2 separate regions of the Homo sapiens genome follow, and region 1 is linked to region 2. The links come from fine-mapping of genetic effects on gene expression. A gene starts in region 2. The other region holds a variant in brackets. All regions are shown on one strand. Distances are from middle to middle.

Region 1 (5,392 bases), 42 kb after region 2:
CTCTATGTGTGTAGAGAAACTCTTAGTCAAGTTTTCATAAAGAAGGAACTTCTACCTGTAACGGAAGCAGATTGGGAAGAATCATTCCTATTTCTGTCCACCCTTCACTTACAAGAGGAGAGGGCAATAAGTATTTACTACTGAAAATACACATGCATTATTTTAGTAATTTTTTAAAATTAAAGAAAAATGTGAAAGAAAATGTATTTTTTCTGATCATAATTGCTCTCCCTAATTTAACCTTGCTTTTAATTTTTTAGGTAGTGTACATTCTTTTTCAAATGGAAGAGCTGGTTATAGCCAACAACATCAGCATCGACATAGTGGACATGAAAGAGAAGAGGAAAGAGGAGATGTACGTTTATGACTAGAAATCACAAAATGGCAAATTTCAGCTCAGGAAAAGTAATTAGAGTTGTCTGAAAAGAGGGCAAGTAGTTGTAGGAAATAATGAGTTTTCTCTTACTAGAGGTGTTTGGTAGAGACTAGAAAATCCTTAGGGACATTGTAGGAATAGGAAGAGAGGTCAGCCAGGGGTGGTTGGATAGTATGACCCCTTTAGATTTGTTATTCTATGATTCTAATGAAGGTACACCTGCACTATGCATGTTGTGAAGGTAACTTGTTATTGTTGGCCCTGAAGAATTTAGAGTACTGAAAAACTTGAATTGGAGGTAACTTTCCTTGTTCTAATGCAGTTATACCTAATTGCCTATAGCAATTTAATTACATGAAGTGGAAAGGTAAATGGAAAGAGCACTAGACTAGAAATTAAAAGGCCTGGCCCCCAGCTTTGCCACTCATCAGCTCCCATCTTCTACCCTCAAATCCAAGGTAAAAAATGGTTTTACAGCCTGCAGCATATTGATAGCGTCTCTGTGTGTGGGGGGGAGGGAGTCGGGAAAGAGAAAGAGAAAGAAATGAAGACTTCCTCATCTATAAAATGAAATCAAATTTTATCAGTGTTTTTCAAATCAGAATCTCCTGGTGATATGCCTGGATAATTATATTTAAGAATCATCCTATTGGCATGGTTACGCAGATTTGAAAGCACTGAACTAGATGATCTCAAATGCGCTTTCTGCCTCAAAATGTATGACAACTGTTGTATTATTAACAACTACAGTTATATTACAATTTGTTATTCTTTGATCATTTTTTATAGGGAGGTTTTTCTGTGTTTATCCAGCTGATGCCCATAATTGTATTGATCCTCGTGTCATTATTAAGCCAGTTGATGGTCTCTAATCCTCCTTATTCCTTATATCCCAGATCGTAAGTAGCCAAGTGAAGTTTTACAAAAAATGAATTGTTGCTATTTCTGACCTAGCTTCCTTTAAAGAGCTTGTGCTCTTTTAAACTTTTAAGTGCCAAATCTATTACTGCAAGTGTACCAGATTTTAAATTTCTATCTAATTTTTTAAAATAGTTACTTTAAGTAATAAATTTGTCTTATGTTGTTAATTTACATTTCTATTCTTCCACTGTGGATAAGGACAGAAATGCTATATTTGAACTTGATAACAATTTAATGTGGTAGGTAATGTGTTGACATTAAAGGCAAAAAATACTCTAAAGGACAAAACTAAAGACAGAGCAATGATTGATGTTACATAGATTTATATCATTAAGGGGAAAATGACTTTACTCTTCATTTTGCAAAATATCGATTAAATAAAAGCAAATATTACTTTTTTATGATGTATTTTTTTCACCATATACTTTATGTGTAAGAGGTCAGGACATAAAGGAAATTTAATACAGCATGCAATCTAGACAACTTTAATACAGTGAACATAAAGGAAACTATAACATCATATTGGCTGTTATAGCAGCATGAATAAATAAGAAGCATATAAAGAAAAAATAATAAAAATCAGTGATTTTACAGTATTAAAATCACATTGGTCTAAAAATAACAATTACCTTATTTCTTCCAAATAAGATTTTTATTAACAAAAAATTGAGATAACTTTATAAAAACACAGTATATTTAAAAGTGTGGTTACTTTTTGTGACATGAAATCATGGTTTTAGGCAATTTGAGATAACGTAAATAAATTACAAGTTGATTTTTGTAATTTATAATACAAATAAGATTTTTATTAACAAAAAATTGAGATACTTTACAAAAGCATAGTATATTTAAAAATGTGGTTACTTTTTGTGACATGAAATCATGGTTTTAGGCAATGTGAGAGAATGTAAATAAATTAAAAGTTGAGTATTTCTTATCCAAAATGCTTGGGACCAGCAGTGTTTTGGATTTTGGGATTTTGGATTTTTTCAGATTTTGTAATATTTGCATATATTTTATGAGATGTCTTGAGGATGGTACCCAAGTCTAAAAATGAAATTT[A/C]TGTTTTATATATACCCTATTCACACAGCCTGAAGGTAATTTTATACAATATTTTTAGTCACTTTGTACATGAAACAAAGTTTGTATACATTGAACTATCAGAAAGCAAAGGTATCACTATCTCAGCCACCCATGTGGACAACCTGTGGTTGTTTGGCATCATTCCTGACTCTGAATTTATATGCTACTGATAAGCAATAATTTTCTTACTCTAATTCACATATAAGTATTTAACAGTGAAAAAATAATGTATTCAGGTTTAAATAACCACCAGCATATTAGCATCACCAGAATACCCGTGTCAGCTGTTAAACAATAGCAACGACAAACAACTACAGGCTTTTAGTTTCCACCTATGATGCTGTGTTTTGATTAAAAGGTGACCCATCACATGAGGTCAGCTTTGGAATTTTTCACTTGTGCCATCTTGTCGATGCTCAGAAAGTCTTAGATTTTAGAGCATTTCGGATTTCAGAGTTTCGGATTAGGGATGCTCAACCTGTATTACCAATATTAACTTTTCAATGATTTTTAATTGTTTTTGTTTGCTTGGTTTATAGCAGCATATTGGAATGTCCAATTTTAATTAAAATAATGATGCATCTCTTTTACAGTGGAACTGGGCAAACTATTAAAATGCAAACAGAAAACTTGGGTGTTGTTTATTATGTCAACAAGGACTTCAAAAATGAATATAAAGGAATGTTATTACAAAAGGTAGAAAAGAGTGTGGAGGAAGATTATGTGACTAATATTCGAAATAACTGCTGGAAAGAAAGACAACAAAGTAAGTTTGTCATGTGTTTAACATTTTAAAACTTATTCGCAGTCTTTGGAACTGATTAATGTAGATTTCCCTATTCAAGGAATGTTCTGGAATTCCCTGGCACATAATTGGAGCACAGTACTTAAATGAGATCATGTGTTTTATATACATGTGGCCTAACATCGGAATTGACACATAGTAAGGACTTAATAAATGGTACTTGTCTATTGTTATCAATAAATATTTGGTTGAATAAGTAATACCAAATTTTATTGTATTGATAATATCCATCATAAGACACATCATTCTTTTATGTACCACCAAGAAACAAAAAATATCCTGGCAGATAAACTATGTCATCAATTTTAAGATGCATACTGTTTTCAGAGTTAAGTTTGAAACTCTATTAATTTAGCTTTTGTATTTAGAATTTAATGTACAATGAGTTTTGTTGACATTTCTTTTTTCTTTACTTTGTACACAGAGAGACTCTTCAGAACACTTCATTTGCTTAGGCTTTTCCAGCCTCAGTTTTCTTAATTTAAGGAACAGTTCCATCTATAAAGATTGATATAAGAATCTGCTGAGATGTTGCATGTGAATTGAGTGTTGTGGTTCTTGTTTTTGTGACCATTGTTGTGAATAATAATGTAGACCATATAGTGTAGTGTTAGGAGAACTGACTTTGGAATTAAACTGAGTAAAGTTGAATCCTAGCTCTGAAATTTTTAGCTGACGAATTGTAACCTCTATGAGTTTCATGTGTAAAATGGGTGATGATGAGTGGGAGGAGGAAATAATAGCTATCATTTATATAATGCCTGTTTCAGTCACTGTCCCAAGCACATTGTAAGTATTAACTCATTTAATCTTCACAACAACCCTGTGAGATTATACTTATTTTACACATGAAGAAACTGAAGCAAAGAGAGATTACTAACTTGCCCAAGGTCATAGAGGTCGTTTGTGATTGAAAACCAGACAATTTGTCTCTAGAATCCAGGCCCTGTGCTCCAACGTCTTCTCAGAAATAACCAACTTTATGGGGTTTGTTGTGAAAATTAAATCAGGCAATAAAGTACTTCACACATAGTGAATGCTCAGAAAATGTCAGCAATTATCATCATCTCCCCCTTGCTAGGGAAAAGTTGATAAAATGTAACTTCTAAGAGAGTCCTTAACCTCTCTGGTCTTGGTTTTCTCCTCTATTTAGTGGCAGTTAGAGATGTGACCTCTTTGACTTCTAACTCAATGAGTTTGTGAAATCAGTCTGTCCTCAGTGTGGAGAAGCTTACATTAGACTAGTGATTTTTATGTTTTCAGCTGGGAGTGAGTTGCCACCCTTCCCCCACCCCACCCATCCCTAGAGATGTTTGGTAACGTCTGGAGATACTTTTGTGTGTCATCATGGGATGGGAATGGAAAGGGATTGCTACTAGCATCTAGCGGGTTAAGGCCAGGGATGCTGCTAAACATCCTACAATGCACAGACCCCCCACAACAAAAAAATTATCCAGCCCAAGCAGTACTTGAAATAATGGAAAGAATATTAGGCTAGGCATTGGAGAGTTGGACTGGAATCTAGACTCTGCCATTCGTTAGCAGTGTGAACTTCGGTTTATCTAAGTCTCAAATTTCTTCTTTGGGAAGAGTCATCTGTAAATAGATATAAGCGCATTATGTGTAAATAAAAGGCATAGGATAATATTGATTGAGTTGTTAATCCTAGTCCAGTTGATTTAGTAAAGATTATTTCTGGAGATCTTTACAAATGGAATACTGTCTTAACTGTGAGTATATCTTGAATGTGATCTTGACTAATCCATATAAACCAGATGTCTTCTACTTTGGCCATTGTGTTCCAGAAAGTAACTGATTTCTTTTTCTGTTACATCTTCTTTAAGTGCTCCTAGTCTTTACAGGTATTAATAAACAGTGAAATGACTGAGAGTAACAGGAAAAAACAAGAAATACTCCTTGAAGAATTTTGATTTGTAGTCTGTATATCATTAGTAGCTGTGCTGTCCCACACACTGAAGGAAGCCTCAGAAGTACTTATTTGCTGAATAGCAATATTACGATCGTATAACAAGCATTTTTTTTATCTGTGTTCCTTCAGTAATATTATTATATGTATTTTTTAATTTAAGTAAACTCAGAACAAGATTTTAAATTTTTTATTAAATACTTAAGTCTTGGGATAATCTGAAATCTTAACAGAAGGCCACAGTGAAACAACCACTGGCAGTATTGAAAAGCATATAATA
Region 2 (5,392 bases):
AACGCTAGAGGGAGCTGGTGTTCAACAAGGATCCTACTGAGCTTGAGTTCTCTGCTCTTGGAATTAAAATTGCGTGCCCCCTGTATATCTTGCCAGTCAGATAGTGAGGAACGATTCCAGTTGGTAGATCTGCGTTTGTGAGGGTTTTATTCTGTTCTCTGAATCTTGGCCAAAGGAAAGTTGGAAGGCAACTGACAGATTCTGCCTTTTAGGTACTTGAACTGGCAGGAAATGCATCAAAAGACTTAAAGGTAAAGCGTATTACCCCTCGTCACTTGCAACTTGCTATTCGTGGAGATGAAGAATTGGATTCTCTCATCAAGGCTACAATTGCTGGTGGTGGTATGTTAACTTCTAACATTTTAAAAAATTTCTTCAGAGGAAGGAATTTTTTGCTGCTTTTAATTAGTTTTTCCAGGAGAGGAAATTTAAGTATATTTTCAATGATGGAAGTATGGTTGTATCATGAAATTTGATTTATATGTATAACTCAATGAATTTTTACTTCATACTTGAGCTGCATGTTTTTAAAGATACCTTTCAAGTTGAACAGTATACACTTTCTTGGTTTCAAATACTGTGATTTTTTAAAAAATCTTAAGTAGAATTAATTCCTGTCACTCTCCTAGGTGTCATTCCACACATCCACAAATCTCTGATTGGGAAGAAAGGACAACAGAAGACTGTCTAAAGGATGCCTGGATTCCTTGTTATCTCAGGACTCTAAATACTCTAACAGCTGTCCAGTGTTGGTGATTCCAGTGGACTGTATCTCTGTGAAAAACACAATTTTGCCTTTTTGTAATTCTATTTGAGCAAGTTGGAAGTTTAATTAGCTTTCCAACCAACCAAATTTCTGCATTCGAGTCTTAACCATATTTAAGTGTTACTGTGGCTTCAAAGAAGCTATTGATTCTGAAGTAGTGGGTTTTGATTGAGTTGACTGTTTTTAAAAAACTGTTTGGATTTTAATTGTGATGCAGAAGTTATAGTAACAAACATTTGGTTTTGTACAGACATTATTTCCACTCTGGTGGATAAGTTCAATAAAGGTCATATCCCAAACTAGTTGTGTATTAAATTTGCTTGGTTGTAATAGGAACTTGTTTTGAGTATCTCATCTAGCAGCAATAACTAAGCACATTTCTTTGTGACTGAACTGTCAAATCTGTAGATCAACAAAGTGAGATAGCCCAAGTATATTTTTTTAATGTTATATGAGCTACTAAAGTTTTAATTTAAAAAGTTGGCAGGAGCTGGAGTGGGATTGTCAGTTTCTTAGGCTAAGTGTGACCATTTCAGTTTGTACATTGGCTTCGCTTGCTGTGTGACAGCACTGCACTAGTATGCTGTTAGCATGGTGGACTTGGGGAGGGAGAGAATAGGTAGGAATGTCCTGTATATCCACAGAATGAACTCCGAATTTAAACTTTAAAGATAATAGTGCTACGTGCCAGGCCCTGCTTTGAAGTCTGAAGTTGTTAAGTACTCAGTAACATCATTGGGGATATACTATCTCCATTTTATCGAAGAGAAGCAGGGTTTCTTATTTGAAAGTACCGAGTTATGGTAGTTAGCAGAATTAACAGCTTGGCTCACAGCATTATGTAAAAATTGTTACCTTGTGGTTGGGTTGAGCAGGTCATTTTGACAGTTTGTCATGTTTTTTTTTAAAAAATTTGCACATAGCAAACATTCCCCCCACCCCCACCGCGAAGACTAACAAGACACGGTACTTCCAAGTGGTAATGTTATCCAAATGGGACGGAAAAGGTGAAATCAAAAGTTTGCTTTCGTTAGGGCAGCCCCTGAGGGGCTGATTCCTGCCTTGTTTTGGCTACACAGGATTAAGGTCGATCTGCACCACTCGTTGCAAGCTACAAATTAAACTGCTTTGTACTTTGGATAGCCAGACATCCGGGTCAGAAAAAATGTAGCTGAAATAAGGCTGCCATACAAGCCCTAAGATTAGGTTCAAACGACGCTCTAACGTGTCCCGGAAGTGCTGAGACTGGACTGACACCTTGGTCCTCACCTGACCGCATCCTCCCTCGCTTGAGGGGCCCAGAGGCGGAACCTCCAAGTCCTGGCAATTTTACTGAAAACGAGTGTCCCCTTCCCGGACCCTGTCCTCCTGGCCTGAGCTGCGAGGGCCTCGCCTGGAGGTCACAGGGCACGGCGCTACCAATGCCGGCAATCGGGTCCCGGGCGGAACCCCTCCCCGCGATGGGCAGCCCGGCTGCTATCGTCCGCCTCCCGGGCAGGTCCGCTTCGAGCCTGCTGGCGCCGTGCGCGGACCACCGAGTCAGCTCGGACGCCCCGGCCCAGGAGGTTGGTCCTGGGCCGGGACGGATGCGGATCGCGCCCTAGGGGCCCGCGGGGGGCGGGGAGGCCGCCGTGAGGAGGCGGAGCTGCGAGGCCCGCCCGTCCGCCCGGGCCGTCGCAGCCGCTGCCGCGGTCCCCTGCGCTCCTCCCCGCTGCCGCCGCACGCCCCCAGCCGGTCCCGCCTCGCCTCCTCCGCGGCGGCGGCTTCCGCCCTTCTTAGCTGCGCTGCCGGAGGAAACGGAAGAAGGAGCAAGCTATGGAGGGGAACAGGGATGAGGCTGAGAAATGTGTCGAGATCGCCCGGGAGGCCCTGAACGCCGGCAACCGCGAGAAGGCCCAGCGCTTCCTGCAGAAGGCCGAGAAGCTCTACCCACTGCCCTCGGCCCGCGGTGAGACCTCAGCGTCCCTTCTCTTCCTGCCCAATCCCCAGACCACCGCGTAGCCCGCCCCTGCCCCCACCTCGGCCCCTCCTGGAGGCCTGCGGGGCCCCCGGCCTGTCTGAGCCAGCCCCAGCCCCAGGCCCGGTGGGGAGCATCCCGACACACCCCCGCCCTGGCCCCAGCCCCGGCTCCGGGCTGGGGCTCGGGGAATGCTGCGCGAGGTTCCTCTGCACCCGCCTGCCCGCCGGCTCCGCGTTCCGCTGTCCTAAATGTCCGGGTTTCATTCTCCCTGGAGGAGACTTGTCTGGTCCCGTCTTACCACAGTGAGGCTTTATTTGTATCTGTGTTGTTTATGTGGCCCCCTCCCTCCCCATTCTCAGTCCTACATAAGGCCTAGGCCCCTATCGAAGTGAGAGGAATGGTGTACTCTAGTGGCTAATCTCAGATTCCATGTTTCTGAGATCTGTAGAAAACTGTTCCCAAAGCAAACATCGAATACCTGAGATGACATTGCTTTTCCCTGGGAGAGAGTTCCTTTAAAAGAGAAGAGCACACTTTCGGCAAGAATGGTCAAGAGTCAGTAATGATTGCTGAAGAGTATCTGATTTGATAACACCATGATTATCGACGAACCAAATCTCTGAGGAATATGGTACTGGGTTTCCTTTAGTTGAAGTCAGCTTATTTATTTTCCTACTCGATAGGCTTCGGAGTAATAATAGCCAACATTTATTGAGCACAAAGTGCCAATAGTTGTGCCCAACATTTTGCATGGATTATTTCATTTATTCCTCAGAACAATTCTGTGTAGAGGTGCAGGATTCATTTGACCAGGTTTACCCACGTGGAAACAGACTTTCTGATAATTAATGAATGAATTAGCGAATGAATGAAAGTATCTTACCCAAGGTCACACAACAATTAGTAGCAAAGTCAGAATAGTAGCTGAACTTTCAGACTCGAAAAGGCCTTTAACCGCTACACTGTTGCCTTGCCATTAGTATTTCCAGGTTAAGAAGAAAGTTATCGATAGATTCAATTAATTGTAGAAAATTATTAATGAAAATATGGGGCCACTTGTTTTGTTGTCTCTTAAATTTTTTTCTCTACGTCGTTGAAGCCCTGTGCTCTTTGCTTTTCTCTCTATCCTTTCCATTACATTGCCTTCTAACACTATACCCATGAGGACAGGAAAATAAAATGAAAGAAAAGAGTTAATAATTTTTTAAGTTGTGGTTTAAAAACCTGCCAAATTTACGGTCTTAACTATTTTTAAGTGTGCAGTCCATTAGTGAAGTATATTGACATTGTTGTGCAAGGACTCTTCAGAACTTTTTCATCTTACAACACAACTGTGTACTAATCAGACAGCTCCCTACCGCCCCGTCTCCTAAGACCCTGGCAACTACCATTCTACTTTGTGTTTCTGTGAATTTAACTACTTTAGTTACCTCAGATAGGTAGATTCATGCAGTATCTTTTTGTGACTGTCTTACTTCACTTAGCATAATGTTCCCAAGTTTCATTTATGTTGTAACGTGAAGAATTCCTCTTTAAAAAAATACTGATTAGGCTGGGCGCGGTGGCTCACGCCTGTTATCCCAGCACTTTGGGAGGCCGAGGCGGGCGGATCATTTGAGGTGAGGAGTTCGAGACCAGCCTGGCCAACATGATGAAACGCCATCTCTACTAAAAATACAAAAAAATTAGCCAGGCGTGGTGGTGCATGCCTGTAATCCCAGCTACTAGGGGATGCTGAGGCAGGAGAATCGCTTGAACTCGGGAGATGGAGGTTACAGTGAGTCGAGATGGCAACACTGCACTCCAGCCTGGGCGACACAGCGAGACTCCATCTCAAAAAAACAAAAAAAAAAAGACCAAAAAAAAGCTACAGTAAAAAAACTGAATAATATTCCATTGTATATATACACCACATTTTGTTAATCCATTCATCTGTCTATGGACATTTGGGTTCCTTTCACCTCTTGGCTATTATGAATAATGCTGCTATGAACAAGGATATGCAAAGAGCCTGCTTTCAATTATTTTGGATACCAAGAAGTGGGATTGTAGGATCATACAGTAATTCTATTTTTAATTTTTGAGGAACCACAATACAGTTTCTGTAGCGCCTGCACCATTTTACTTTCCCACGAACAGTACATAGGGTTTCAGTTTCTCACCATCCTTGCCAACACCTATTTTCTGTTTTTGTTGGTTTTGATAGTACCCATCCTTGAGTGGGAGGTGATATCTCATTGTGGCTTTGATTTGCATTTCTCTGATGATTAGTGATGTTGAGCATCTTTTCATATGCTTATTGGCTAGTTTTATAATATCCCATTTTTGGAGAAAATGTCTGTTCAAGTCCTTTGCCCATTTTTAAATCACATTACTTGTTTTTTTTTTGTTGAGTTGTAGGAGTTCCTTATTTATTCTGGATATTAACCCCTTATCAGATATGTGATTTGCAGATGTTTTCTCCTATTTATATGTTGCCTTTTCATCACTTTGTTGATGGTGCTATTTGATGCACATAAGTTTTTAAGTTTGTTGTAGTGCCATTTTTCTATTTTTGCTTTGTTTTTTTGTGCTTTTGCTGTCATATTCAAGAAATCATTGCCAGGAGTTAATTATTTTTGAATCCTCCCCTACTGTTGAATATGATTTCATTTAGTCATTATCTA

The links.
Region 1: its variant is fine-mapped to the expression of DNAJB14 in whole blood (INTERVAL, PIP 0.91).

What each region holds. Positions count from the first base shown.
Region 1 is chr4:99,901,480-99,906,871 of GRCh38, reverse strand. It overlaps DNAJB14 (DnaJ heat shock protein family (Hsp40) member B14), which reads left to right. Exons shown (of 8, transcript NM_001031723.4): 5 at 261-355; 6 at 1,166-1,275; 7 at 2,974-3,146. Among named protein-coding and RNA genes, the nearest start is that of LAMTOR3, 9.7 kb to the right of the region's middle. The variant A/C (reference allele first, on the strand shown) is at 2,360.
Region 2 is chr4:99,943,761-99,949,152 of GRCh38, reverse strand. It overlaps DNAJB14 (DnaJ heat shock protein family (Hsp40) member B14), which reads left to right and starts at 2,535. Exons shown (of 8, transcript NM_001031723.4): 1 at 2,535-2,714. The coding sequence starts at 2,582. H2AZ1 (H2A.Z variant histone 1) reads left to right here. Exons shown (of 5, transcript NM_002106.4): 4 at 213-342; 5 at 630-1,065. The coding sequence ends at 691. RefSeq lists enhancers at 88-137, 1-224, 3,102-3,151 and a silencer at 2,272-2,931.